Regions from separate parts of the Homo sapiens genome. Here regions 2 and 3 are each linked to region 1. Evidence: fine-mapped expression QTL. A gene starts in region 1. Each other region holds a variant in brackets. All regions are shown on one strand. Distances are between the middles of the regions.

Region 1 (8,600 bases):
TATATTGTGCGTCTACAAAATCCTGAACAATTCTCACTCAGATCTTGAGAGAAGAAGGGGCCATTGTTTATCCTTAGTTTTTCTCATTTTTGACTGTGGAGTAGTGAAAATGGCTGCAGTGGAGATTAGTGCAAAAGGAAATAGCAGCAATGTGGCATGATTTTGTCAGAGTGTGAGGACTCCAACGACCCACATTAATTGGGGGAATGAGCTGAAACTCACAGATGCCCCCAACCTCGCTGGACAGAGTAAGCTCAGCCTTCTCCCTCCCTCAATGAAGTGCGAAGCCTGCATGTTCCTCACAGTCTCACATTGGAAGGAGGGGCCCAGTTTGTGCAACACAACTCCAGCTAAGCCCACCCCCACCATTCCCACGCTCAAAGGTTATAGAAAATCAAGCTCAAAAGGAATATTAAGCCGTCATATGTAATCCAGAAAAGGGGTAAGAAAAGGCTCTGACATGAGGATTTAGGAGCTGCCACACACAAAGGGGCAGAGCAAAGTGAAAGTCTGAAGAAAGCTGCCAAGTATGGACAAGATGAAATCAATGAACTAGCAGCTATGCAAACCTTAAAAGAAAATAACATGCACAAATTAAAAATAAAATCCAGTCTGAAAGAATTTTTAAGTGCACAGGCTACAAAATTTGATAAGAGCCTGCATTCAATTTTTTAAAAAACTCAAGAACCGATTGAATAACCAAGAGAAAATAACTAAAAAGAGTGAGATAGAGAGAACCAGAGACAAAGAAATAATTTGAGGACCAATAAACCTACCTACAGGTAAATTAGAAATAACAAGAAATAAAGCAGACCCAGCTAAACATTTAGTTCCCGAAAAAAAAGAAAGGGAGAGAGAGAAAATCACTGTGAACCAGGAAGAAAAAACAAAGTAGATTACTACAATCAGAGAAAAGATAATAGACTTAGATGATAAAAAGTTAATTAATATCCTTGAAGAAAAGCACTTAACAAATAAAAAGGTATTTAAAATCACACAAGAAAAAATTCTTTGAATGAAGATCTAAATCTGCGCATTACAATGGTGGATACACAGCATTATATATTTGTTAAACACCATACAATATACAACACCAAGAGGGAACCTCAATGCAAACTTTGGGCTTTGGGTGATTATGATGTGCATTAAAGAGTGCATTGTGTTTAAGAAATAAAAGATGGCCGGGTGTGGTGACTCCTGCCATCACTTTGGGAGGCCAAGGCAGGATGATCACCTGAGGTCAGGAGTTCGAGACCAGCCTGGCCAACATGGTGAAACTCTGTCTCTACTAAAAATACAAAAAATTAGCTGGGCTTGGTGGCGGGCGCCTGTAATCCCAGCTGCTCAGGAGGCTGAGGCAGGAGAATTGCTTGAACCTGGGAGGCAGAGGTTGCAGTGAGCCAAGATCACGCCATTGCACACCAGCCTGGGCAACAAGAGTGAAACTCCATCTCAAAAAAAGAAAAAGAAATAAAAGATGCTGGTTGATCTGTATCAGTATATATCCTTGTCAAGTTTCTTAATATCTCAGTTAAAGAAAGTTTCCTCCAGCAGCCTGGAAAGAAGAGCAAGTCACCTAAAAGAGGACAAAGGACTGGCTGTTCTCACATTTCTCCAAAACAACATTCAATGCCAAAGGGGCAAGGGAGGAAAATCAACCGAGTCTAGGCCAAAGGGAAGTAGGATGGAGACACAATGTGCCCACCTTGATGTCACTGCAATACAACAGCAACAGAATAACATCCTGAAAGTGGAGAGCATTGATAGATGCAGTATGTGGGATCACATCTTCACAGAGTCCATCCAGCTCATCAACAAAGAAAGTAGGAATGAGATATGGTGGTAGAAAGGTCTGGAGGTGCATAAGGTATCCTTTTAAATGGAGAACTAAGAAGAGACCACTGAGGGTTTATGGTTACAGAAATCAAAAATTTTAAACTTAACTATGTAAAACTCATATAACTAGGGAAACGTGAGAGGTGAGCTGAAGTGAAGTGGAGTGAGAGAGGTAATTGGTTCATGTATCATAGCAGAGTTACTGATACTGTCTGAAATTAAAGCTCATGGTTTAGAAGAAATGACGAAAACTGCTTATTATTGTCACTTTTCTTTTCCTTTAATCAAAGTGGGGTCATTTCAGAAATGATACATTTGTGGCAAAGAATCATTTCTATAAAATCAGCAATTCTTTAGATCCCATTTCAGAATTTTTTATTCTGTTAAATTTAAGTAGAATTAAATATCATATTTAACATGGATAAAATGTATAATAAATGTATTATATTTAAAATGATGCCCATTTTTATATCTATTGCCATGTGTACATATAGAAAGAGATAATTTTGTAAGGGTCACCTAACGGTAATGATGATTATGTCTGAAATTTGGGATGTTTCTATTTCCTTTGTGCTTTTATTCTTTTAAGGGATTGCCTATTAGGAATACTTGCCACTGTTACCAAAAAAACTATTTTTTTAAATTAAACACTATTTTTTAGAGCAGTTTTAGGTTCACAGTAAAAATGAGAGGCAGGTACCGAGGTTTCCCATATACCCACTGACCTCACACATGCACAGCCTTTCCCATTATCAACAGCCCCATCAGACTGGTACATTTGTTACAATTGATGAACCTACTTTGACACATCATAATCACCCAAAGCCTGAAGTTTACACTGATGTTCCCTCTTGGTGTTGTATATTGTATGGTGTTTAACAAATGTATAGTGCTGTGTATCCACCATTGTAATATCATACAGCATACTTTCACAGCCCTAAAAAATCTCTGTTCTCCTTCTATTCATCCTGCCCTCCCCACCAGCCCATGGCAGCCACTGATCTTTTTACTATCCAGATAGTTTGGCTCTTTCCAGAATATCACCTGTTGAAATTATACAGTATGTAGCCTTTTCAGAGGGCTTCTTTCACTTGGTAATATGCATTTAGATTTCATCCATTTCTTTTCATAACTTGCTAGTGCATTTCATTTTAGTGTGGAACAATATTCCATTACACTGATGTACAAGAGTTTATATATCCATTCACTTACTGAATGACATCTTGTTTGTGTCCAAGTTTTGGCAATAAACTTAGTAAATAAAGCCAGCGTAAACATTTGTGTGCAGATTTTTGTGTGAACATAAGGTTTGAACTCCTTTGGGTAAATACCAAGAAGCACAATTACTGGGTACTACTTTAGGTAAATACCAACTACTTTGGGTAAATACCAAGAAGGACAATCCTCTTATAATTACTCATGTTGTAAGAGGATGTTTAGTTTCATAAGAAACTGCCAAACTGTCTTCCACAGTGGCTGTACCATCTTGCATTCACAACAGCAATGAATGAGTATTTCTATTGCTTCACATCCTCACTAGTGTTCACTGCGGTCAGTGTTCCGAATTTGGGCCATACTGATATCTTACTGTCTTCATTTGCATTTCCCTGATGATACATAATGTGAACCATCTTTTAGGCTAGGCATGGTGGCTCACGCCTGTAATCCCAGCATTTTGGGAGGCCAAGGCAGGCAGATCACGAGGTCAGGAGATCGAGACCATCCTGGCGAACACGGTGAAACCCCGTCTCTACTAAAAATACAAAAAATTAGCCGGGCATGGTGGCGGGCGCCTATAGTCCCAGCTACTCGGGAGGCTGAGGCAGGAGAATGGCGTGAGCCCAGGAGGCAGAGCTTGCGGTGAGCTGAGATGATCGGGCCACTGTACTCCAGCCTGGGCAACAGAGTGAGGCTCCGTCTCAAAAAAAAAAAAAATTACTACATGATACTAAGTAATGCGGAAGGTGACTCAAAGGGGGAAAGGAACACAGCAGTGTAAAGGAAGGAGGTTGTAGATGGATCTAGAATTTCCCCCTCATTTCCATCAGGTGAAAGCCTGAGAAAACTGCAATCTTTGTGCAGGCTGGGTTTGCTTTGTACACACTGGTCCCCTAGTGTTCATCTCCAATAATGCTGACAACTCTGAAAACCATCTGTAGACATTCTGCAGGCTCCATCTCAGGAACAATGGCTATTTTTTCGGGTAGTTGAAGCAAAATTAAGTCCAATGATAAGCAAATATAACCATTATCAAAATCTTCCATTTATGTTTGTTAAAGCAACCTAAGTATGATCTGAGAAGGACTCTGTATTCTATATTTGAGTCCTTGTGGATGAACTGTAACCTAGCTTAATAGGCAGACAAGATTGAAAACCTAATTTAGGAGTATGTGCCTTTAACAATAGCTGAGTCTTGGCCAATCCCAGTGGCCATACTTCAACCATTCATACACTGCTGAGTGTTCAAACTGTGTTCAAAGAAGGCAAAAGCCAACCTGTAACCAATCCAGTTGTTTCTCTGCCTTACCTCCAATTTCTGTATGTCACTTCCCTTTTTTTGTCTATAAATATGTTCTGACCATGAGGCATCCCTGGAGTCTCTGAATCCGCTGTGATTCTGGAAGCTGCCCCATTCGCAAATCATTCATTACTCAATTAAACTGCTTTAAATTTAATTCTGCTGAAGTTTTCTTTTAACAGGTTTAGAAAAAATAATGGCAAAAATGAATGAAAATCCAATAACCCTGGAAGCAGAAAAGGCTGGGGGCTCCAATAAGTGTAAATAGTCCCATCCCTATATTTTCTCCATGGCAATTACAATCCAGCACATTATATATATATTTTTTTGCTTCTCGCATTTTGGCTTAGGGTAAAGCTTTTTAAAACAGGCACTGCCAACCAGTGTTATCAAGAAGGTCTGGATGCCGTTTTGTGGGAACATTTTAAAGAGGAATGTCCAAAAGGAAAAGGGGGATGGGTTGGGAGAAGGGTATCAGGCGGGTATCTCAAAACCATTCTTAGGGCTATAGGTTTAATTTATTTGGTTGTGGACGTCAGAGCCGTCATGGTAAGAAGGAAGCAAAGCCTTTTGTAATAATTAAAGCCTTCAGAAGCAGCGTGCCCCATTGCCCACTAGTGCGCCGTGAAGTCTGGTGTTCACCTACAGGGTCCCTCTCAGCACTGCCCAGGCCTCCCGAGTGCTCCAGCACAGTAGCTTGGAGCTTGTTGGTTTGGTGACCAAGATACACTCCAGGGAATATGCCATGCAGTGGAGTCTCTTCCCCGGCACTGCATAGCAAAAGGAAAGGGCCGCTGGGTGTCTGTGGGTCCTGGGCAGTCACAGAAGCCACCGCGCTGGCGGGGAGGAGGGGGACCGATGCGGTCCATGTCCCGGGCAGCCCCACCTTCTCTGCCTGCGAAGGGCCCTTGTCCGGCGGGAGGAGAGAGGCGCGCCCCACCCGGGCTCCTCTACACCTGCCGCCGCCTGGGCCGATTCCGCGGGCCTCGCCCGGCGCTTCAGCCGATTCCCGCCCAGCTCCGGGCTCATGGGCGCGGTCAGCAGGGCGGGCCAGGGCGGCGGGGCGCGACACTGGGAGGAAGTGCGGGCCGCCTGCCCGGGCGCGTTAAGGAAGTTGCCCAAAATGAGGAAGAGCCGCGGGCCCGGCGGCTGAGGCCACCCCGGCGGCGGCTGGAGAGCGAGGAGGAGCGGGTGGCCCCGCGCTGCGCCCGCCCTCGCCTCACCTGGCGCAGGTAGGTGTGGCCGCGTCCCCTACCCGGCCGGGACTTTCTGGTAAGGAGAGGAGGTTACGGGGAACGACGCGCTGCTTTCATGCCCTTTCTTGTTCTACCTTCATCGGCCGAGGTAAAAGTGCTGAAACCATGTGAATAAAATACAGGTGGGTTCCGCCAGCTTCGCTCCTGAACCTACCCGCGCTCGGGATCCAGAAGCTGCGCCGGGAGAGAGGGGCTCAGGCCTGGGCGGAGGGGACGGAGGTCAGACCGTGCGGAAAGTGACCCGGGCACCCCAGGGCGCCCAGGCCCCCAGGGAGCGCGGAAAGTGCGGTCGCGGCCCGGCCCTCGGGAGACGCGGGATTGGGATCAGGCACAGCGCGAGGAAGTCGATCTTGGAGCTAGAACATTTTCCTTTGGCCATTTACACGAATCCACTGGAAAATGCCGCAGTGTTTATCAAAGTTACTCAAAGTAGAAATGTCCAGACGTCTTATGAGCTTAGACAAATCTTTTACTACAAAAAGAAACAGCAGTTGCATTCAAACAACAACCCTTCTGAACCACTACTAAAATTTAGCATAATTACTCTTGTGGATACATTTTCATTGTCAAGTAATTTACTTAGCCAATGAACTTGGAGAGCAAGAAAGTTTTATGTAGTAAAATGTAAATTTGAGTTAAGAGTTAAGGGTGTTTCTTTTTGTCTGTTTGTCTGTTTTTGGCAATGTGGCTCCAAAACCTTAAGCCCACCTAAAAACTATATAAATGCAATCCATTCTTTTGTTGGAATGTTCAAGGACTAGAAAGACAATTGGAGAAGTGAGAGTTTGAATCTTTTTTTACGTTGGAAACAGTGTTGCAAAATATTTTTTGAGTTTTGCCTGACTTAGCAAAGATTCAGTCGAACTCAAGTAGAGTTCAAAGCATTGCAGCGTGTAGTAAAAAAAAAAAAGAGTTGAAGATGTTGTGCCATATCTGATTCTTGGTATTAAAAATAAAAAAAGGAACCATTTAATCCCTAAGAGTTCCTGGAAGAAATGGAATTGATTCTACCATCTGACTTCTTTGTCTTAGTAGGGACAAATTCATTGCCTTCACACAGGCAGCATTTTAATTAAATGCAACTAAATACATTGATGTCCTCCTTCTCCCCAGTGAAAGTCCGAGCAGTGCATAGATAGAATTATATTTTCTCAAAAAGGCTTAAATACATGTAAATTATTAAGTGTTTTAAGTGAGAAATCTTTGTCAGTTGAAATTATTTTATCAAATCATTTTTGTTCTGAACGGCACTTTTGTTTTAACGTATTTAGAAAACTCTTGCATTAAAACAGAAATTGATTTGTATTATCCCCTGTATTTGAAGTGCACTTTAAAGTGTATTTGAATGAGAGATTATAATCAAATTACTTGATTTGTGTCTTATCCTCTTACTCTTCTACCTTGGATTTGAAAAGGTTGGATTTGAACACTAGGAAAAAAGAGATTTTTCTACTGAGGGATTGTGGGAAGATTTTTTTTTAAGCCTCTGTATTTGAAGTGAAATATAAAATAGGATTTTATAATAGTCTTAATAACTAGAAAGTTTTAAGCTAGGATAAAAATGGGGTGTATACTTTAGGTCTTTATCTTTCCTGAGAGATGAAATTGGTAGAAACGTTATTTTATTGCTAGATTTCACTTTAGAAATGAATCACCCTGATCTTTGTTAGGCCCCTATTTAATATTCTAAATGCAGGTCTAATCTCTCTGCTTTTTTTTAATGGAAGACTTCTTAGTAGAACTTCACTTATTTAGCACATTGTTTGCCCATGGTTATAATCCAATATGCTTGTGCCAAGACGTATTTTGGAATTCAAGCTTTTTCAGAATTTGGAATTAAAATTTAGAATCTAAATTTCAGAACTGAGAAAGACATTGCTCAGAATTTAGAAAGGTAAACATACATGTTGACCCTGCTGGTTACATGCCATTCCAATATAGTCTGGAGAGAATCCTGTAATTCCATGCATTAATATTTCTGTACTTTTACATTTAAGAACATGAATATTCTCACTAAGTGGAATAAATAAAGACTATAAAGAGCTGTGTGTCTGTTTAGAGCAGGTGTTATCACTACGAGAGCTTCTCTAAGACTTACCAAAAAAAAAAAAAGTGTTGTTTTTCAGAGCTTTTTAGAGCTGCAGCTGAGGGACTGAGTCTGTATTAGACTCCACTGAACTACGGTTTGCTTTTAAAAGGAAAGTGCATTTATGTTGTTCAATACTTCACACTTTCCAGTAATTAGAAGGGCAGTTCCTCTCTCTTTAGGGAGTCTTAAATAGCAAGATTTTACTGAATTTTCAATCATACCGATCAAAATAGAGGTACTTCAAGTAAGAGTGGATGTCTCATCTTTGTAATATAATTTCAAACAGCATAGTTTCTGACAGTCTACCATTTTAGAGAAACAGAGCAGAAGTTACTTACAGGAGGGGTTACTGTCACCCTTTACAGCTGCAGTCTGTCCATGGAAGAAATATTATTTCCTGTTAACTTTGCAACCAGCTGGGTTTGTGTCAGTTATCTAAGCCTAAGTGATGGCTAATTTTTACTTTCTCAACTTTCCCTGTATAGATTTTTTTCCAGCTACCCCCTGACTTTTCTACTCTTGCTTTGCTGGTTTTAACATTTTCCACTACTTCTGGATTGGTTTAGCTATAACTGGGTGGAGAAAACAACAACAACAACAGGAATTTAGGCCTTTGGGGAAGAATTTGTTTTGTTTTAGAAGTCTACACATTGAGCATTACTTTTTCTTCTAAAGCAACTAAAATCAGAAGGCAGAGTCCTAATGAGAGATTATGATCAAATTGCCTCATTTGTGTCTTATCACCTTCCTCTTCTACTTAGATTTGAACAGGTTGGATTTGAATACTAGGAAAAAAGGGTTTTCTACTGAGGGATTGTGGGAAGATGTTTTAAGAACTAGTCTGATTGGATTTTAGGAAAGTTCATTCATTTTGATATGATGTTATCAGGGACATTTTCTA
Region 2 (11,354 bases), 60 kb after region 1:
TGTACTAGCCAAGTTCCAGGTGCAGCATGACACACTCGTTATCTCCACCTCTCTTCTCCCCTTCCTTTCCCTCATGTCTGCACACACTCCCATCCCCTCACTTCTTCCCCCTACAGCCCGCCTCTCTCTCTCTCACACACACACATACATACACACACACACACACACACACACACACTTGAGAACCGCGGCTGCATATCATCTCCTGTGGACCTGTGCACAACCTGTGGGGCCCAACTTAAAGTACTGCATCCATTCTCCGTGGTTTATCCTAATTTAGGTTTGTTTCCTGGTCATATAGAATACTGAAGTATATGTCTTTAGGAACTGTCTCAATTTCTTAGAGAAATGGGATATACGTGAATAAAATTTTTATGATTCCCTTATACTGAGTCCCACTTGCACTGCAAAGGATTAATAACATCTGTTTCCAAAGCAAGGCGTCACCTGCCATGCAAGCCACCTGCTGGGGAGGGGAGGTGAAGGGTGTGAGCATTGGTGAGAGGTGTTGTTCTCATGTTCAAGGTGACAGGTATGTTATCTGGTGTCCCCAGGCTGGGTCCCACCCAGGGCCTGCTCCTGGACGAGGGCTGTATGGCTCTGATTTGCACACCCCTGATTCTGGTGGACACAACCCTTTTTCTTAGAAAGCCAGAATCACTGTATCTTCTAGTCCTTAGCTGCATAAAAAAATGGGGTGCAAAACTTCTCTGGACTGTCTATTCTTATTGTTCATTGGTTTATCCTGCAGGGCCACCCATGGAGCCCGTAACTTAAGATGCACAAATGAGCTATTGAGTGAATATGTGTGTGTGTGTGTGTGTGTGGGTGTGTGTGAGAGAGAGAGAGAGAGAGAGACAGACAGAGAAAAAGAAAGAACCATCTGGAGGGCTGGCAAAAGCACAGATGTCTGCGTTCCATCCCCTGAGTTTTTAATTCACAGGTCTGTGTAAGGACTCTTCCATTTGCATTCCTGCCAAGTTCTCAAATGATGCTGATGCTGCTGGTCTGGGGATATGGTGTGAGCCTGTTTGAGATACCTGTTACCTACCTGGGCTGGATTAACAACTATGATCATTTGAGATTTTCATAGTTCATTGGAGGGTCTGTAACTGCATTTGCAGTTGCAATTCCTGCAAAATGCCCAAATACTGTATTATTGGACTGGTTCCGATAAAGTTATCTTTGAAAATGCCTCTATTTCTAGAAACTTAAGTTAGATAGTAAAGAAATTCAGGCCATGAGTCAGACAGGCCCTGCCACTTAATAGCTCTGTGATTTGGACAACTTAATTTTGCTCTCTGAGCCTCTGTTTCCTCAGTAATAAAATGGGGAGACTGATGTTTTATCTGAGTCATTATGGAGATGACTTAAGTAATGTGTATAAAGCTAAGCCAATGGTTCTCATGTCTCTGTGGTTCCTACATCCATGAATTCTTTTCTTTCATCAGTTCTGAAAAACATCTTGCTACTTTTTTCTTCAAATATTGCTCTCTGTTGTTCTTGCCCATTTCTTCCTTCAGAGACTCCTATTAAATACAGTTTGACCTTCTCAATTCATCCTTTATATTTTTTATTTTCCCTTGCCTTTTCTGTGTCCTGTGCTATGAGTAACGTCGTTGAATTATTCTTCCAGCGCACTAATTTTTCCTTCATTTGTGTCCAATCTGCTCTTACGCTCATTCACTGATTTTTTTTAATTACATTTTTTAGAAAATTTCTAGCAGTTCTGTTTGTTTGTTTGTTTGTTTGTTTTTTCAAATATTTCTGGGGCATTTTTAGAGTATCTTATTGGTTGCTAATTTCCATGGTTCCGTTTTTTATTTTGTTAAACATTTCATAGTTTATATTCTATATCTGATTATTCTACTACCGAAACTTTTGGAGGATGTAAATCTCTCTCTCTTTCCCTCCCTACCCCTTTTCTCATAACTCATGCTTCCTTATGTTTTCAGTGATCTTTCTGAGCTTATGCCTGATTGATATTAATCTGTGGGAATCCTGAGTATTCGATGCTGGGAACACTTTCCTCCAGAGTTGAAGGGGATTTCCTCTTCACAGGTCCTTGCTTTAAGGTGGGAATCCCACATCCAGGTGCTCACTGGGCTGCTGGCCTGAGATTCTGTCCCTGTCCACAGCTGTGCTGATATTGGCATTGGCCCTTTGGCCAAACCCACTTTAATTGCTCTCATTTGCCACTCACTTTTTGCTGTTCAAGTTTCAACTCACTTTTTGTCCTATACTTCAATTTCAAAAGTGAATTTGCGGCTTAGGAAAAACCTTTTCCTTGTTCATTGAGGAATGAGACTGTGTTAGGCTGTCACGAGCCTCCTTTGCCACAACAAAAACTCTGTTCCATCAGTGCTTTCATATGCTGCCGTAATTGATCAAAGTATGCCATTTTATTTGACACATGTGGTTTTGCAGACCTAGGTCATCATAAAGAGTCATGACCTGTCTGAAGTTAAAACTTCAAAGAGAGTTGTGGGCTGATGTCAATATCACTTCATTGATGCTGATCAAAGTCTCCTTGAAGCTGAAAGACAAGATGCGTTAAATAATTCCACCTTCATGAACTAAAGCAGAGGGAGAGAATGAGAGGGCGTTTGTAATAAAATGTTTTAAACGACAGGTGTGTTAAAACAGCTTGGTGTGGCCTCAGATAGGGATTGTGTACTGATCTTGCTCTTCTTTGTGTGGAATGCACATGTGCCTCAGTAGTGCTATGGCGCAAGGCAGAAGCACTCAGAAGTTGCATTATCTATATCTTTCATGGATCAGTAAAGCTGGCATTTCTCCTGCCTCTTGCTGACATACACACTGTTCAGGACCTCATTCGCTCCCACATCCTCCTCTTCCCCTCTCCCAGCTCTCTTTGAGAAACCACTGTTGGGAGATGGCTCTGAGTGAGAACTGCCCACCCAACCCAGCACAGGCCCCCTCTGTCCATCTGCCCAGCCCACCTTAGCCACAGTGAGCATTCATCCTTTGCACATCTAATGCACACAGCCAATCCCAGGCATCTTCCTTCCCCTTGTATGAGTCTGACAACTGACCCGGTGATACTCTACTCTGCCATGGAAAAAAAATGGCAGGGGAGAATGAGAACACCTAGTGGGCTGGAATGTGCCCGGCTTTTCTGTTCCGTCTACAGCAGATACAGGCAGTGTCCCCGTAGCCCTGGGGAGGCCACCTTGAGTGCCTCACTACTTCTTACATCCTCACTTTCCCCTTGGTGCCCGGGCATCACCTCTGTATATTCTCTCTCCCCTAGGAGGGTGCAGGAGAGTAGAGGAGTCCAGCCCTTCCAGGCCATGCCCCAGCAGAGTCAACATGCCTCACCTTTGGATAGTGTTCTAGTGTCTGTGAGGCACAAGGCCTGCTCACCCCAGAGGCCAAGGCTGCCTACCCTGGGAAAGTAGACATGCCGCAGGTCAAGGACTGTCTCAAGACCAGTTAGGACAGCTTCTCAGCATCATCTCAAGCTCAAGCCCTGGAAATCTCAGGCTTTGCAATAGCAAAACACAAATCTGTTAACTTACTCCTCCCAAGACAATTACTGGGAAAAAATATTTTGTAAATATTCAAAGGCTTCTGTGAACAGCCTGAGGCCAGATGACCCTGAAGGCGGAAGGCAGCAAGCCAGACAGGAGCCAGGAGCCTTGCCTGTGTGCACGCCCTCTCTGGGTGTCTGTAGAGCCATAAGCCTGGGTGGGTGTCCTGATGCCACCACCAGGGCAAAGCTCTCAGTAAGAGGACACAGCCAAGAGGAGGAGCAAGCCTTCCAAATCAGTTTGTCTCCTATGTTTAATTAAAAATGGCCTGGTCCAGGATCTGCCTGCAGCCAACAGATACCTCACAGTTGCTGGTGGTTAATGTCGCGAGCCTTCTGGTCTTTGCCACCTACAGATGCTGGGCCTGTGGGTTTCCTTTCTCTGCTCTTGTTTCCTGCCACCTGCCACAGGGGGCTGCCCAGGCCACATGTCCATGGTCACTACCTATACCTTCCAGTTACCTGTTGCCAGGACTGGCCAGGGCTGCTTGGTGGAGCACAGGAAGAGAGGGGATCGCCTGCAGAACCTGTCCTCTTGAAGAGCCTCAAGGAAGTGAGGCCTTTGCAGAAACTGCTTGTTCCAAAGCAAAGGGCACTCTCTGTTTCCTCTGGGTTGCTCTCTATTTCCTCCTGGTACCAGCTCTCTTTTTATACTGCTTTTATTGTGAAATATAAAACAAACACATAAGAGTGCATAACTAAATAGGTACAACTTAATGAATGATTATCAAGCAAACACAACCCAGTCAAGAAATGAAATGCACCCAGCATTGCAGGAGACCACTCCGCCCTCACACACTCATACCCATCTGTACAGCTGGCCTCCTGGGAGGCACCACCTCCTGAACTCTTGTGTTCATCACGCCCTTGCTTTTTTTGTTATTTTTCATTTGTTTGTTTTTTTAGTTTTACCACCTAGGTGTACATCACTAGATAAAACAGGTGGCTTTTGTCTGTTTGGGGACTTTGTGTATATGGTAGCATGGAGTGAGTTTTATGTTTGTGAGACTCATCTGTGCTTTGTATAGCTACCATTTGCTCATTTTATTGCTTTAGAATACAGTATTGTGTGAATTCCTACAATTTACTTGCTCTGTGGTCACTTACGTTGTGTGCAGTTTTTGATAAGCACAGATGAAGCTGCTATAAGTAGCCTTGGGGTGCATAGTGCACACATTTCATACACCTAGGGGTGGAATTGCTCATTCACGAGGTCTGTGAATGAATAAGTTCAGTTTCAGGAGACTGTTCCAAATTGTTTTCCAAAGTGGGTGAGCCCATTTATGCTCCCACAAGCAACGTAGGAGGGGCCTTGCTGCTCCCCACTCTCAGTAGCACTTAGAATGATCTTTCTAACTTCCACCAGTCTGAAGAGCGTGGAATGGTACTTCCCTGGGGTCTTCATTCATGTTTGCCAGATGCCTAATGAGGTTGATGGCATCATCTCTCAGGGAAACCTGTGCTTGTCTGTCTCAGTTTTTAACAAGAAAATGTCAATCAAGACATAGGGTAAGATGGAGTACAGCAGATTGGACATGGATTCAGAAACCAGAGTTCAGATCCCATTTATTACTACTATCTTTTTTTCTGGAGAGATGGCGTCTCACTCTGTTGCCCAGGCTGGAGTGCCATGGTGCAGTCTTGGCTCACTGCAGCTTTCACCTCCTGGGCTCAAGTAATCCTCCTGCCTTGGCCTCCCAAAGTGCTAGGATTACAGATGTGTGCCACTGCACCTGGTTCAGATCCCATGTATTATCTCCATGACCTTGAGGTCACAGACGTAAAAGATTAAATTATAGGAAATACTTTGGAGTGACATATTGTCACCATTCTTTCAAGGCCAACTTTTATAGGCATATGCATCCACTCTTACTGCTGTAGTATTTGGATAGCTCTCTATACCCTCAAACTATAAGCCACTGATATGTATAGAATAAACATAAATAGTCTCACTTTATAAGATACTTTCCCTATAAAACAGACTCAGTTCTCTCTTTATATGAAAAGATTACCATGTGGTTTTTTGTTGTGTTGTGTTGTGTTGTATTTAACAGTCACCAACTGCTGGCTGTAGTCGGCCATGTGGCTGTGAAAAGGGAGCTCACACCTTGGGCGCTGGCAACTCGGTTGGTTTGGGAAGAAGAGGTTGTTCTCACAGTGGGGAGGTTTCAGCACAGCCACCTGCTGAGGCCACAGAGAACCTAGATATGTGTCCTGTACCCTGGCCAGCTGCCCTGAGCTGTGGGGTGCTGTGCATGGCCAAGCACCGCTAGAAAAGACACTTATTCTGAATTTCACTCCTCCCATGCCATCGTTCAGCTTTCAAGTCTTGGGTTAGCTTTTTGAGATAAGTCTCCATGGCAAGGGACAGGAAAGCATGGCCATGTCCAGTTCTGAAGGCCATCTCAACTCTCCCTGTGGTCGTGTATCTGACTTCTTGCAACCAGGAGGAGGCATCAGAAATTTCCCCAGTACCCAGACGTCCCAAGGCAGTTGGGCACACTTGAACTCTGCCCCAAGTACAGTGCATTTGGGCACGTGGCTTAACAATTTTGGACCTCAGCTTCCTCATTTTAGAAAATGCAGGGGCCAAAGAGGCTTCCTGGGACTTCATGACTCACCCTCAGAACCTAAGATCTCATGA[A/T]CCAAAGGGCTGCAGCTGTGGAGAGGGGAGAATGGGGCAGTGTGTGTGACTACGAAGCTAAACTGGGGGATTCGCACCCATTTCGTGCCTTTTCAGCCTCCACTGGGACCTCGAACTCCCCAAGTCCCACAGGTCTTCCAGGGGATCTCTCACCTCCCCATGAGTCATAAGCCTTACGTGGCATGCACTGCAGTGGGGGTGTTGTTCCCTGCCTGGCATCAGACTCCTGTGTTTCTGTTCACCAGGACCCAGGGCAGGGGGTTGTTCTGAGGGTCGCCCAGCATTACCATGAAGACAGAGCCTTGGCTGCTCAGCACGGCCAGCACAGCTCTGGTTTCACCTCTGTCTCTTCACCCCACAGTGGATGTCATTTTCTTCTCCTGGGGGTGTTACCCGACAATATCATCATTTGAAACTGTTTGAAGTCCAGCCCTGCCTCCCTTTCCTGCATTGGGAGCTTGGAAGTCCAGCCCTGCCTCCCTTTCCTGCAGTGGGAGAGTGGAAGTCCAGCCCTGCCTCCCTTTCCTGCAGTGGGAGAGTGGAAGTCCAGCCCTGCCTCCCTTTCCTGCAGTGGGAGCATGGGAGGGACTGAGGAAGGCCCGGGGGATGGAGGCTTCCATAACCCTCCATCTCTGGTCCAGAAGATGGCTGGTTAAAATGCCCACCAAACACCCCCACCCACACTCCAAGCTAGGTGGTAGAGCTGTCCATCTTGGATCTAACCCAAATGCAGGCCCTGGTGAAGAAAGGTGAGTCCACAGTGCTCCACAGATAATCAGGGCCCGTGGTGCCCCTGTGCTCATCACCCTGAGAAGCGTCACTGCTACTGAGCACCAGGCTCTCCTGACCACTGCCCAGAGCTCCTGGGCCCTGCTAGAGCTTAGCCATGGTCCATTCATCACCAACCTGCTAGCATTTCCTTGTTGCAAGCTTGCCCACTGGCATCATCCCTGAGTGGTAAACTGGGCCTTCCTGGGTTGGGTAAAGCCCTTGACCCTGAGGCTCCAAACTCTGCCCTCCAGCTGCCTTGCCAGGTGACAGGCCCCAGAGAGCGGCTGCTGACCATTCAGGCCAGGGTGCTTCCTCCCAGGGTCCCACCTGGAGACTGGCGGGCCTGGGGATGATGCAGTTCCATCCTCTCTTCTAGGATCCGAGCCAGAGACAACAACGGCTCCTACGCCCTGTGCCTGCTGCACGAAGGGAAGGTGCTGCACTATCGCATCGACAAAGACAAGACAGGGAAGCTCTCCATCCCCGAGGGAAAGAAGTTCGACACGCTCTGGCAGGTACCCAGCCTCCTCTCCCCACCTTGTGGGTAGAGTACAGGGCACGTGGGGCTCCTTGTCCCATGGACTCTTAGACATGAGAGGAACTGGACCACCCACTGCCCACAGTGTGGTCCCCAGGCCAGCAGTAGCTCTGGAGCTCATGAGAAACACACACCTGGACCACACCTGGGCTCCTGCCCCACCTGCCCATCAGACCCCACTTTCAGCCTCCAGGTGGCTTCTGTGTTTGAGAAGCACTGGTCCAGAGGCCGTCATGTGAGGTGAACGAAGGTTCCATGGCTTGTTCAGGGCCACTCAGCCCTCAGTGCCACAAGGTGATGTAAGTGCAGGGCTGTGTTCAGAGTTTAACAAGACACTCTCTTTGGAGATCTAGAAAATATTTCTTCCTAGGATATTCTAACTAGAGCCCAGAACAGCCTTTCAGACAAAGACACACAAAATAAAGGAATGGATGCCTGGGGAAGGAGGCCTAGGAACAGCCAAGCAGGACTTTGTTGGTGGTGTGAGAGGCTGAATTAGACAGCAAATGTCAGGTGCCCTCCTCATTGTAAATCGAGTCTCTCTCTGTGGAAACTAAGGCAATTTAGGAAGCATACTCCCTGGGCTCCAGGCTGCTGCTTATGCTGATTGCCACAGCCCTGGTCTAAAAAGTGCTTATTCCTGACCCAGCTACTAGAAAACCCTGAAACAACTCCCAATTTGGAAGTTCCTTAGGCACTAATGAGCACTAAAATAATGCTCATCACTGCTTTCCCTGAATCGCAGTGAGCACAGATTGCTTGTCTTAATTTTGCATCACAGCTACACTGGCTGATGATGAAGGAAATAACCGTAACAGTACTTCGTGCATCATCTTCGCAGAGCATCCTATAAACTGTAGTAGGTTCAGAAACAGGGAGAAAGCCAACCGACTCTGCCACCACCCCACCGCCCCAGAGCACCAGCTACCTTGAACATGTGTGGGTGAGGGGCATAATCAGGGCGTGTTCCAATGTCCTCACCCAAGCCCAGCTGGGGCCACACATGCAGTCAATGTTGAGGAAAGGACTCAACTCAAAATCCTGTCTTTTCAAAAACTGAGACTACAGAGCCTTAGCCCCTTTAAAGCACTTAAACTTACTACTTCCAAATGTGATTTGCTTTCTAGTGCTGTAATTGGAAAAAAAAAATACTCCTTTTTTGAATGCTGGATATGATCATATTAAAAAATGTTAGTCACAACATTTACATTGTCTTTTGATTTTGTGGCTCATTGCCATTTGTCATCATTAACCACAGGCTTCTTTCTTTTAACGATATTGATTCGAAAGAGTATTTAACCTTTCTACACTCAAAGCCCCAAAGCACATCAGGGAGGTGAGTAGGGAATGTGGCCTTCTGGAATGCAAAGGCACCTGGAGTCCTCTATGCCAGCTTAATGCTCCAAGGTCCCAGGCCCCATCACTTATAAACAGCCATTCATTCACCTTCTCCTGAAAGGGCATTTTATGTGTGTGGCGTTCTGTCACCATTTCAAAGGCTGAGCACTCACCATAGTGTTAAGCATCTCTAATTATTGAGAATGTCCTTCCCAAGAATCTTTACTATTTGTATTGATTCCCCTGGTAGATCATAGCATTCATCCCTAATTAAATATTCCTCATTGTATATTTTCTAGGCACTGTGTTTAGGAAACTACGTCAAAAATGCCAGCAATACGTTCCAATTTCCCATGCATGATTTCATTGATTTTTCTTGACAGCGTTCTAAGGTACTTCTGTACCCTACCCAACTCCAGGGCCCCAGTGCTATTTCACGGAGAGTTGGTGATTGCCATAATACCCTATTTCAATATTCTTTACTGTAGACCAGGGATCTGCAAACCCACAGACCAACTCTGGCTCTCAGCCTGTTTCTGTGTAGTCCCTGAAGAGAATGGTTTGTATGCTGTTAAAGGTGTTGTTTTGGATAAATAAATAAATAAACAAAGGACACAGATACGGTATGAGGCCCACAAAAGCCTAAAATACCACTTTCTGGCCCTTTACAGAAAAAATTTGCTGCCCCTAGCCCAAGAGGGGGGATCCCTAGCTGTGGGCCCACTTCCCCAGCCACCCTTGTGGAGTGGACTTAAGCACATAAAAGCATTTATGTGTCTTGGGGCCACTTCGAAAGCCCAACAGTCAGTCAGTAGCTCTCAGTCACTATTTGTCTATTTCCTGACCTTGGTATTTACCACTTTCTTACTTTTTTCTCTTTCAGCTAGTCGAGCATTATTCTTATAAAGCAGATGGTTTGTTAAGAGTTCTTACTGTCCCATGTCAAAAAATCGGCACACAGGGTGAGTTCCCAAGACACTGGAGTCTCAGTGTTTGAGGTATCAGTGACAATCAGCCTCATTTTAGACTTAGCTGATTGCAGATTTGGGTTGGATGAGGACTTCTTTTTACGGGTTGATTAATAATGATATCAGAGCACTCCGATTTTGTATATCGTGAATCAAAAAATAGCCAGTTGCTTTAACTTTAAAAAAATTGTAATTTATTTGTCTTCATTGCATGCGGGAAAAAGTAAAAGAGGGTCGAAAGAAGTACCTGCAGAAAGCGTGCTCACTTCTCAAGCAGCAGCACATCCTGATCTCATTGATTGATCTGCAGTGGGGAGGGGAAGGAAGTGGTTTCCTCAGATAGAGCAGTAATTGTCCATGCTCTCTCTAACCAGGAAATGTTAATTTTGGAGGCCGTCCACAACTTCCAGGTTCCCATCCTGCGGTAAGTGTCACTAGGAATACCACTGAATGAGAAGCTGTTGCATATTTCACAAATGAAAAGCATGTTTTAGCTAACAGGAGTAGTAGGCATTGATATTTTGATTGCGCTTCAAAACATACTCCGTGATGAGCTGGGATTGCTAGTGAGTGTTAGGCAGAATCAGCCTCCTATTAGTGATAAACTAACCACATTTTCTTTTCTTTTTTTCTTTTGCTTTTTTTTTTTGGAGATGGAGTGTCTCACTCTGTCACCCTGACTGGAGTGCACTGGTGCAATCACGGCTCACTGCAACCTCTGCCTCCCAGCTTCAAGCCATTCTCATGCCTCAGCCTCCCGAGTAGCTGGGATTACAGGTGCCTGCCATCACACCCGGCTAATTTTTGTATTTTTTAGTAGAGACGAGGTTTTGCCATTTTGGTCAGGCTGGTCTCAAATTCCTGGCCTCAAGTTATCCTCCTGCTTCGACCTCCCAAAGTGCTTGGATTACAGGCATGAGCCACCACACTCTGCCTAGCCACATTTTCTTAACTTCTTGTCTAGATGAAATTCTCTTCATTTTTGGAGAATATACACAATGCGAATGAAACCCAATATTAAATCAGAAGTAGGCCTCTTGCAATATTTGAGAAATGGGAACATATTTTTTAACTTCATCCTTGAGCCGTCTATGTTAACACACGTAATTCACAGGACCTCAGCTGTCTCCTCCCTCCAGCCTGTTAGGAAGTCAGGTACAGATTTATGCTCTAAGCAGGAATTATTTTCCTGCTCTTTTCTTGGGGCTACATATGGCCTTTTTTTTTTTTTTTTTTTTTTTTTGAGACGGAGTCTCGCTCTGTTGCCCAGGCTGGAGTGCAGTGGCGCGATCTCAGCTCACTGCAAGCTCTGCCTCCCGGGTTCACGCCATTCTCCTGCCTCAGCCTCGCGAGTAGCTGGGACTACAGGCGCCCGCCACAACACCCGGCTAATTTTTTTATATTTTTAGTAGAGATGGGGTTTCACCCCGTTAGCCAGGATGGTCTCGATCTCCTAACCTCGTGATCTGCCCGCCTCGGCCTCCCAAAGTGCTGGGATTACAGGCGTGAGCCACCGTGCCCGGCCCATATGGACTTTTTATG
Region 3 (11,354 bases), 98 kb after region 1:
ACTTTCCAAAGAGGAAACACAACATCAGAGTCCTGCCCTGTGCAGGTCACTCAAGGAGGCAGCGTGAAAGCCAGGAAGGAAACACTGGCCCTAAGAAAAGCAGGAATCAGTCAGGAAGCCTTCCACTGTAGTGTTTTCCAGAGCCAAGTCATGCTTGGGGTGATTAAAGACACCAGTGGGGAAAGCCCTTGCAAATGGAGAGAAGTTGGTGCTCTTGATCCTGAAAAACGGTTTCCTAATAGTCCCAGCCCTCCAGTGGGGGCCTCTGCCGAATGGAGAAATTTCCTGGGCTCTCCAGGTTCTCTGAGAGTCAGGGAGGCTCTAGATGCGGCTCAAATTCCTGTTTAAAGATCAACAAGCCCAAGATAAAACATGAATTCCCAGGACCTTGGTGAGATGTCCCCTGGCTCCCTGCACAACCTCAGCTCCAAGGCTTTCCTCTGAGCGGCACATCCTCTGAGAGCCCTGGGTCATTCACAGGGTCGGTGGCCACTGCCGGAGCTCCTGCTATGCAGGCTGCCACCCCAGGTGCAAGCCTCACAGAAGCCTCAGACCCTGTCCCTATCAGACCTTATAGTTGGGGCTGGGGCAGACAGGCAATAAACAATAAGCTAAAAATAAGTGTGTCCTATGATGTGTCTTAGGAAAGGGATGACTCCAGTGGGAATTCTAAGCAAGGAGGGCACAGGGGCCTGGAGGATATCACGTGTATATATGGGGTTTTTTAAGCCCTCTCGTGTCGAAGTAGTTTCTCACAGTTGCCTGCAGCACAGAAGCACATTGGAGCTTCTAGAATGTGGTGGATTCAATGAAGGGACTACAGGTGGTCCTAGTATATTCTCTGTTTTGTTTTGTTTTGCTTTGTTTTTTCATTTTTTCCTCAGTAGTAAACAGCCACTCTCTCCAAGGTGATATATAGAGACAGACAGAGAGAGCGGGAGGGAGGTAGATGAAGGGAGAGAAGGAGGGAGGGAGGGAGAGAAATAGTCTCATTAGCACAAACCCAGGTATGGTTGAAGGGGGTTTATTATGAGTAACAAAAGATGCTGCTTTCAGCCCAACAATCAGGAAATTCCAAGGGTTTTAGGAGCTCTGTGCCAGGAACCCAGGATAAAGACCATATATCTCTTTATATAAAATCACACACTGGAAACTTTAAAAGAGAACAGAAAATTATGGGGAGGGAAGCCTCACACTTCCAGCAGGGGCTCCAGATAGGCCGCCTTTAGGGATTGCAGCTGAGACCTGCAGGCTAAGAAGCAAGGTTGAGTGCAGGGATGAGGGGAGAGGAGGAGGGTCACTGGGTACAAGGAGCAGAGCAGAATCTGCACTCTGGCCCGAAAGCAGAGTGGCAGGCCAGGGCAGGCCAGGAAGCTGGGCACGCAAGGGCACTGCATCACCCTCCTGCTGCTGAAGCACAGCTGTGTCCCAGCTTCCTGGAGGCAGCATCTCCCATGGATGTACAGGAGAGATTTCCTAGGAGACCTGACCAGGTGTTTTTCCTGAGGACGAGTCTGTATTCCTGTTTCCCTGCATTTGTTTGCTCCTTGGCTGCTGGGCAGATGAACCCCCAGAGCAAGATCCAAAGGTGCTCTTTGTACCATTTGGATCCCCACAGTTGGAGCAGAGCCCCCTGTTTTGCAAAGATGCTGAAGTGTGTTCTCTTTGACTGTAGAAGTTTAGGAGCAAGACAGAGGCTGTCCCTCTGGGTGGACACATGCTCCTGTACCAGAGGCTTGGCCACCATATCCCCTCTCGGAACACACTTGGTGGCCAGAGACAAAGCCCCTCTCAGTGACACCCTGGGAGGCCCGTGTCCCCAGACATGACCACAGATGGCTGACCACACTGATCAATTCGAGCAGTTTTATCATTTTGCTCACTATTGAAAGCTATAAGAGAAACCATGTATTTTGATGCCATTTGACAAAGCTACCCATTTTGATTTGTAGAAGCCACTCTGCTCTTATAATGATGAGTGAGTCTTGGTCCTGATGCGCGTTCTATGGCTGTTCTCTTGTGTCGACATTGAATCATATGAAATTGCCATTGATATAGGTCAAAATGGCTGAATGTGGACGGTTTCCTACAATTTAACCTCACATTCTGTTTCACTTTTTCACTTATTGTATTTCAACTTCACCCACTTGCAATATATCCAGAAATCTTGCAAAATAAGAAAAATAACTTCTAAGTGAGGATCGATTATCAGGGTTTTAGTACTTACTTCCAACTGATCTGTACAGGATGTCTGTGTAAGACAAAACAGAAGTGTCTGTAAGTGTTTGTTTAGAGACTGCGAACTGTTAATGCTTTTGCCCATAGTTTACTGACATTAGTGCCTCCCTGGCCAGCAGTGGCAGTAAGGACTGGCTATATTAAGGTGGATCATAGACAAGCCCTGGGTCTTTGCTCCTGCCATGACATGTTTTGAGCTTTCCTAAGAACCCATATCAACAGCCCATTTTCAGAAAATCCAGAGCCATCGATTAGAGCGTGGAAAGGGAGAATTAAAGTTATGTTCGTATTTCTTCTCTTAACAAGATTATGAGTCAGATGTTGACTATATCTGCAGAACATTTGCCAAGTATTTTCAGACACCTGTTTTGCTAAAATCACAGAGTGACAGCCTCTTCGTGTTGCCTGTGGCACAGAAGCATATTGTGTGCCGCATATCTGAACCTGGGGCTAAAACACTCCCAGTTCTAATGCAAAAAGTCTCCTACTTTAGGGTGGACATGAATCACCGGGAGGTCTTGTTAAAGTGCAGATATGGGTTATTTAGGTCTACAGTAGGCCGACACTATTTTTGACAGCCTTGTGGTCACCCTGGGGTGGGGGGCACAGGGACCACGCTGTGAGCTGCAGGCCCTAGAGTTAGCCACCAGGGAGCAGCACCACTGGTACTCAGCCTGCAGAGGCCCTGCTTGTGATCAGCAATTTTTCACAAGCACATTGACAAACAAGAATGCATCTCTTCCATTCCAGTGTGGAAAACAGGCCCGGATTCGCAGCAGTGGAACTGCGGCTGCGCAATTACTACTATGACGTGGTGAACTAACCGCTCCCGCACCTGTCGGTGGCTGCCTTTGATCACAGGAGCAATCACAGGAAAATGTATCCAGAGGAATTGATTGTCAGCCACCTCCCTCTGCCAGTCGGGAGAGCCAGGCTTGGATGGAACATGCCCACAACTTGTCACCCAAAGCCTGTCCCAGGACTCACCCTCCACAAAGCAAAGGCAGTCCCGGGAGAAAAGACGGATGGCAGGATCCAAGGGGCTAGCTGGATTTGTTTGTTTTCTTGTCTGTGTGATTTTCATACAGGTTATTTTTACGATCTGTTTCCAAATCCCTTTCATGTCTTTCCACTTCTCTGGGTCCCGGGGTGCATTTGTTACTCATCGGGCCCAGGGACATTGCAGAGTGGCCTAGAGCACTCTCACCCCAAGCGGCCTTTTCCAAATGCCCAAGGATGCCTTAGCATGTGACTCCTGAAGGGAAGGCAAAGGCAGAGGAATTTGGCTGCTTCTACGGCCATGAGACTGATCCCTGGCCACTGAAAAGCTTTCCTGACAATAAAAATGTTTTGAGGCTTTAAAAAGAAAATCAAGTTTGACCAGTGCAGTTTCTAAGCATGTAGCCAGTTAAGGAAAGAAAGAAAGAAAAAAAAAAAAGGCCTGGATACTGCTTTTGCTGTCTCTGTTATGAGATGGAAGACTTACATGTTTGTGATAAAAGGGGACCATGAGAATGAATTGGCTTGGCTTACTTTCCCCCTGAAATCCTCTCTCCTGCAGACTGTCTTGAAGACCTGGTGACTGGTAAATAAAGCCCTGCATGGAGGCTGCACAGCAGGGGCAAGAGGCCCATCCCCCAGCATCTCACTGAGGACAGCTTCAGGCTGCCTTCCTCTGAACGTGGTCCACACCTTCCTCTCCTCCACAGAGAGGGTGCCGCCAGAATCCCCTGTCGCTTTCTGTGTCTGCAATGGGGGGCAGCACAGGGATCAAAGCCATCTAAAGAGTTTCCAAAGAAAGTATTAATTCAGAACAAGCCAAAGACCCTGAGCCTCACCACAAACAGGCCTTTTGGAGTGTGAATTTGAGTTGAAGATACAAGATCGGAGAATGATTTTCTGGTCTTAACTAATCCTCATCTTCATGTTTGATCTTTAAGAAGTCATCACCCATTGATTTCAGTTTTGCTGTACCTCTTGAAAGTTAAAGAGACATCTCAGCACTTTAGGAGGCCGAGGCGGGTGGATCACTTGAGGTAAGGAGTTTGAGACTAGCCTGGCCAATATGGTAAAACCCCATCTCTACTAAAAATACAAAAATTAGCCGGGCATGGTGGCATGTGTCTGTAGTCCCAGCTACTCGGGAGGCTGAGGCAGGAGAATCGCTTGAACCCAGGAAACGGAGGTCGCAGTGAGCCAAGATCATGCCACTGCACTCCAGCTTGGGCATCACAGCGAGACTCTGTCAAAACAAACAAACAAAAAAACAACTTAAAGAGGTAATTTAGCCATCATTCTTATGCCAGCAGATATAAATAAACTTGGACCCATCTGGTCTTCAGCTAAACCTGAGACATTTTAAAGTGCATGGACAGCCATGGACAGCAGGCCCTCCTCTAACAGGGGATGCAAGGCATGGAGAAAGACAATCAGTACCCAAGCTCAGCCACAGAAGACAGGAGTCACTCATATAACTTGTGTTTAGAAGTTTTTGGTAGCCACGCACACTTTCTGAAATCACACTATCTGGTGGTTTAATCATATTTTTAAAGACAGAATCCCTGAGTGCTGAGCAGATTCTCAAAACACATTTAGAATCCCTGAAATTAGAAAGATCAATGACAAAATATCTGTCAGCCAGGCCACAAACAGGTGTAAAATTATGAAAGGAGTGGTTGGATGTGCCAAGTTTGGTAAAGTGGTGACTGCATCTGAGAAAGAGGCTGTGAGGCTGAACTCTTGGTGGCTTCCTTCTGTAACTTCCAGAGGGAGTCTTCAACACAGGCCCCGTGCTCGTAGGAATACGGTAGCACCTATGTAGGAAGTGCGTGGAGTTTTCTGTCTTCTTTCTGTGTGATTTTTGGCCTTTTTATCAGCACTTCTCCCCTCCCAGGAGCCTGGGGATGCCAAACATCCAGAATGTGATGGGACAAGATGGGGGCAGGGGCCTCACCTCCCTGCAGAGGTCCGGCCAGGTCTCCTTGTCCCTGGACAATCTCCTGAGCCTCTCTGCTTGGTGGAGCAGGCACCTGTGTGCAGAATTCCCACTGTGGCCAGCACGAGGAAGTCTTTTCTAGTGAAAATGTGTCTTGTGGTCAGGAATAATTATCCTTTCCCCTGTAGCCACCAAGGAGGGCAAATAGAGAAAGGTAACCTAATTGAAGGATTGGTCATGTGAAAAGGGCTACATTTGGGAAGCTGGGAAAGGCCTCCAGGCTTCTAGAGCAGCTAGCTTGGGCTGGATTCTCATACCCAGGCTGCCCCTTGGATTGTTCTACCCAAGCTTTTCCCTGGGGTCTGGGCTCACTCCATAAGGTAAGGTGCCTTTTACCTTATGGTCCTTCTTTAGCAGGTAACAAAGGAGCATCAGGGGCAGGCTGCCCTGGTGGCATCACACTGGCTAGTGAGGCCGTGAATATCTTGTCCCCCAGCAGGGCCGACAGTTTCTATCACAGAAAACAGTGTGTTCAGTGGTGAAAATCGTTGCATGCATGTTTTCATCTGAGCGTGTCCTTCTCCCATACTCCCTATCAGCCAGCCCTGCCTGTAGCTGCTGTATGGTGATTGCACTTGGACATCAGTCCAATGACTGCAAGTCGGCCTGGATTTTCACTTGCAGAGGCTACAGCTGCATTGTCAGGTCTCCCAGCCCTGCAGAGAGCTCCCTCCACTGGTTAGCAGTGTGTTGTGTTTTCCATTCATTTCAGAAGAGCTACATTGTGTCACTGGACATTTTTAAAAACTGTGATTTTTAATAAAAATTTAAAATTTGCTTTGTGATGATTTTCATGGAAGTTATTAGGATGTGGTAAGTCACACTGTCAAATAGTGTCAAGCAGCATTGTCAAAGGGGTAGCTAAATGTTTTCTAAAACATTAAGTCCCTGCCATGTCCCAAAAAAGTGAATGTGTTGGCCGGGTGCAGTGGCTCATGCCTGTAATCCCAGCAGTTTGGGAGCCCAAGGCAGGAGGATCTCTTGAGCCCAGAGTTTGAGACCAGCCTGGACAACATAGTAAGACTTTAGCTCTGCAGAAATCAAAACATTAGCCGGGTGTGGTGGTATGCACCTGTAGTCCCAGCTACTTGGGAGGCTGGGGCAGGAAGATTGCTTGAGCCTGGGAGGTCGAGGCTGAAATGAGCTGTGATGGCACCACTGCACTCCCAGCTGGGTGACAGAGCAAGATCCTATCTCAAAAAAAAAAGTGGATGTGCACAGGTCAAAGTTGACTGTGAGATTCCACCACACAGAACGGCGGGGAGGCCCATCAGGGAGGGCCCTGTCCTGCCCTGCC[T/C]CTATCTTTTATTCATGAGCAGAGCATCTACCCAGCCAGGGCCTGACAGCCCATGGCCTGCCTAATAAAAGACAGACTGAGGAGACCCAGAAATCCCCCATCAGGCCAAAGCAGGGCTGTGGGTTTTGAGCTATCCCTTTCTCTATGAAGACAGCCTAAAAGGAACTGCGGTAGGCAAAGAAAGGATTCCAGAGCCCCAATTTCTGCCTGTTCTAAGGAGGTTACACACATGCGCAGACATGCACACATATACATCCACATGCACACATGCATTCACACATGCACAGAAGGCATGCACACGTGTACATATGCACACATGCATATATGTCAGTGCATACATGTATATGCACACATGTACATACACATGTGCATGGGCACAAATGCATGCATTTACATGAACACATGCATCCACACACATAAGCACATGCACAAATGTACACATGCATTCACACATGTGCACACATGTGCATGCATGTACATACACCTGTACCCACATGCACACATATACATACACATATGCAGAGACGGGCACACATACATACACATGCACACAAATACACAGAACATGCATGCACCACACAGTACACATATACACATACCAAACACATACCACATACACCTTCACACACCACACACATACATACACTGCGCATACACATACTATGCCATACACACACACCACGCAAGCACACACACACAAAACGCACACACCACCGCACATACTGAACCTTACTCCAAATAACCACTTAAAAATCCATGTGAGGCAGTGGTCCTGCAGTGGACACACCCTCGTGTCTGTATCCATCTTCATTACCACCCTCTCTGGTGTCAAGCACTAAGGGACTCTCCTCACAATCTTCCATCCTAGCCTCCCCTGGGTCCCCTCTGCTCTTGCCAAGCCAAGTTAGGTTTGGAGGAAACAATTAAGTTGGCTGGGCCAAGGCTCCCTGGGTCAGCTGGGAGATGGGAAGGACACAGACTGCCCAGTAGCCCAGTGGCCTGCGGGGGGCTGCTCCAAATACAGTGGGGTGGTGAAGAGCCCTGAAGTCAGAGAAGAACACAACACACAAGAGACCACTGGGCTCCAGCACTGACCTTAGGCATGTCCTATAAATTGAACCCCTGAGCACCACAATTTCAGCTGAGGGTGCCTATGCTGACACATGTAAGTGCCAGCACAGTGGCCTTATTCTAAAAATGTCAGCAGATGCCATGGTCTGTGCTGTTCATGCCAGTGGCCATCTGCTGGGAGGAATGCTGCAGGCAGCAGACGGCGCAGGCCCTAGGACAGCTCTGGAAATAAGCACTGGCCTTTGGCTTCAACCCCAGGGAGGGAAAAACTCTTGTGATAATGTATCACTGCACTGCAGTGAGATGGCTTTACCACTAGCCTGAGCTGCAGCAGAGAAGCGGTTTAAGACCCCGGGGCTTGTCCTTCGGAGATGAGGAGGGGACTTTAGAACTGATAGATAAATATATTCTCATTTTAGGGAGGAAGGGAGCACTTTGAAAAAGGCAGATTTTGGTTTTTAAATTATGTTTTAGTTTGTGATAAACAATGCCGTGTCTCTTTTCCTCTCTTGGTTACTCGCTGGTGGTCTCAGGGTGGAAATTCATCCCTGCTTCTGGGCAAGCAACCCTACCGAATTATTACCTCCTCTCTGGTGTTAGGCTGCAACAGGGACCAACACCTCTGTGCTGTGGGACCTCCCACCCCCTCCTGCTCCATGCTCTGTCTCCTGTGGCCTGACATTTCCAAAGAGCATCCCCAAAAAAGGCATTTCACAAAGTGTCTTCCGGGATATGAGTCTGGAAGGTGGAGACACGCTCTACAGCACGCAGTTTCCCTGATTAACTAACTTAGAAAACATGGCCAAGTACATTCACAGTGCACATTAATCTACTAATAGCTCCAAAGAGCACTGCAACCAAGATCTTTTCATGGAGCTTTTCTAGCTCAACATTCTCCTGACTTCTTTTGCCACTACCACTAGGTGCTCAATACCTATTAGCATGATAGAGTGCTGTTCCCCCCACACTCACTGGGAAATGTGCTTAAGGAGAATTAGGGAGGCATCTCTAAAGGGCAATGGTCATTTGGTCCAACCCTGAAATCACACCAAGGAAGCAGGTATCTGTGTTCTTATTAACTGGAAAGCCAGCCCTGTCCTGTCAGTTCTCAAAGGTTAATTTACACATGATATGTTCTTTCACTCTCTCTCTCTCAGATACATACACACACACACACTCTCTCTCTCTCTCTCTCTCTCTCTCTCTCTCTCTCTCTCTGTCTCTCTCTCTCTCCAGGGCATATAGATTCAATCTTTCCTCCAAAGAAAAAGAAGAAACGATGACAGCACTTTGGTATAGAAAGGTGTGGGCAGCAAGACACCCAGGTGCCGAGGCAAGAGACTGAAGGCACAAGCTGTTCCAGTATAATAAAGAAAATAATAAGAATAAGAATAGTTATACTAGAAATAGAATATAGATATGATTATATATGAATATTATTAATCATTAGTTTGTAGAATTACTCTTTGTTCTGTTATTATAATAATCCCTATTCTAGAATTATAACCTAGGAATAACCAGGCCATACGGAGTTAGGAGCTGAAGGGACACGATGAGAAGTGACCAGAAGGTAAGAGTGTGAGCCCTCTGTCACGCCCAGATAAGCGCAACTAGAGGACTCCTTGGTCTAGTGGTAACGCCAGTGCCTGGGAAGGCACCTGTTACTTAAGCGGGAAAGGGAATCTCCTTTTCCCTGGAGGAATTAGAGAACACTCTGCTCCACCACTTCTTGTGGGAGTCCTGACATTAGCCAGGCCCACACACAGCCATTCAGAAGCTTGAACGTCTCCCAGTGATGCTGTGCTTCAGCAGTCACGCTCCTGGTCCACTTTCATGTTCCGCTCTGTACCTCTGGCTCCTCCTTCTAGATAACAGTAGCAGAATTAGTGAAAGTATTAAAGTCTTTGATCTTTCTGTTAAGTGCTTAGAAGAAATGATGACGTATGATGTATGCTGTCCTCTCTCTCTCTGCCTCGGCTGCCATAAAGGGAAAGGCCCCCTGTATGGTGGACACGTGACTCGTGTGACCTTATCAATCACTGGAGATGACTCACACTTCTTGCCCTGCCCCCTTGCCATATATACAATAAATAGCAGCATGGCCAAGCATTCAGGGCTACTACCAGTCTCCGCATCTTGGTGGTAGTTGTCCCCCGGGCCCAGCTGTTTTTTCTTCTATCTCTTTGTCTTGTGTCTTTATTTCTACAATCTCTTGTCTCTGCACATGAAGAGAAAACCCACAAGCCCTGTAGGGCTGGACACTACATCTGGCGCCCAACGAGGATTTCTCTTTCATTATGTGAAGGCGCGCTTCGAGCATGGAACACAGTGGAGAGCATCAATGACAGATTCCTGAGAACTGCAGTCAATACGCTTGGTGGTAGGCTTGGGCACTCAGAGTATCCCCGGACACCATGGGACAGGCCAGTACTAAGTACTCGGCTTATTTAAACTTTATAAAAACTCTCCTTAAAGAAGGAGGTGTAAAAGTCTCTACTGATAAGTTAATTGCAGTGTTTGAGGTCATAGATCTCCTCTGCCCTTGGTTTCCTACTGACGGAACTTTAGAACTCAAAGATTGGGATGAGATTGGCCAACAATTCAAAATTGCTCATAAAGGGGGAAATATTCCTCCCACCATTTGGTCAATCTGGGCTTTGGTTCACTCTGTTCTAGAGTCCTTGCAGACTCAGGAGAACAACATGGAGACTGACCCCTGTTTCCTGTCCTCTGAGGAGGTTGAGGAAGTCCTCAGTTCTCTTTCCCCTGAGGAAACTGCACAGATTGAGGCCGTCATTTTACAGATGAACCTCCATTCTGACATTCCTTTGACCCTGCCACCTACACCAGAGCCTACCGCGCCCCCATTATCACTTTATGATGAACTTTTACATGATTTAAATAATCTCATTTCCCCAAACCAGAGAAATCCAACCGAAATACATTCTCAACAGCTGTTGTAACTGGACCCTCCTGTCTTTCCTCAGACCTGCTGTAGGGCCCCCGACCTTCCATCTGCGCAGCCCGAAAATGGCTCTAAACTACCTTTCTATGGAGCCCGGTAATGAGGCTCTCAATTCTGTCCCTGTTCAGCCCTGCTGTAGGGCCCTCAAACTTCCACCTGTTCAGCCCGGTAATGAGGCTCTCAACTCTGTCCCTGTTCAGCCCTGCTGCAGGGCCCTCAACTTTCCATCTATTCGGCCTGGCAATGAGGCCCTCAAACCTGTCCCTCTGCAGCCTGATTATCCATCTCTCACTTTTGTTTCTCCTTCAGCAAATCAGGCTCCCTTGAAGCCTCAGGGTCCCTTGAAGCCTGTCCCGCAGTTACCACTGCAGCCTGGACCTCAGGCCCCTGAAGGACCTGCCCAGCAGGTAATCTCACCTCAACCTGGCTTACAGGTTCTCAATTCTTCCTCCGTTCAAAATCCTAACTTCGTTTCTCCTTCTGGTCTGGTCACTACTGCCGCTCATAAGCAACAAGTTACATACATCCCTCAAGATGATACTCCTCTTATGAGAGCCATCACTCAGGCCAGAGAATATGGGGCTCCTGAGGCCTGGCAATTTCCTGTAATTTTACAACCTCCTATACCTGCCGTCCCTGCAGCACAAAATCAGCCACAGCCCGCTGACCCTGCTCAGCAGGAGGCTGACCCCGCGGCTCCTCAAGATCTACAGCCTGAGAATCAGGTCCCTCAGCCCGAGAATCAGGCTCCTCAGGCAAATAATCAGCCCCCACAACTGCCTGCTGCT

Alleles and levels. Alleles are on the strand shown, and positions count from the first base shown. SD is a standard deviation of normalised expression in the study named. Not every link is listed here.
For the expression in monocytes of the gene that starts at base 5,512 in region 1, allele T in region 2 goes with a higher level than allele A (small effect, 0.32 SD a copy in Quach 2016).

Evidence for each region. PIP is the estimated chance that this variant, and not a neighbour inherited with it, causes the effect.
Region 2: its variant is the best candidate, but not a certain one, in a credible set for the expression of SYK in monocytes (Quach 2016, PIP 0.86).
Region 3: its variant is the best candidate, but not a certain one, in a credible set for the expression of SYK in whole blood (INTERVAL, PIP 0.82).

Annotation. Positions count from the first base shown.
Region 1 is chr9:90,796,308-90,804,907 of GRCh38, forward strand. SYK (spleen associated tyrosine kinase) reads left to right here and starts at 5,512. Exons shown (of 14, transcript NM_003177.7): 1 at 5,512-5,586. RefSeq lists silencers at 5,261-5,470, 5,491-5,650.
Region 2 is chr9:90,854,862-90,866,215 of GRCh38, forward strand. SYK (spleen associated tyrosine kinase) reads left to right here. Exons shown (of 14, transcript NM_003177.7): 4 at 7,345-7,483; 5 at 9,728-9,806; 6 at 10,187-10,236. Among named protein-coding and RNA genes, the nearest start is that of SYK, 59 kb to the left of the region's middle. The variant A/T (reference allele first, on the strand shown) is at 6,198.
Region 3 is chr9:90,892,540-90,903,893 of GRCh38, forward strand. SYK (spleen associated tyrosine kinase) reads left to right here. Exons shown (of 14, transcript NM_003177.7): 14 at 2,989-6,010. The coding sequence ends at 3,061. Among named protein-coding and RNA genes, the nearest start is that of SYK, 96 kb to the left of the region's middle. The variant T/C (reference allele first, on the strand shown) is at 6,531.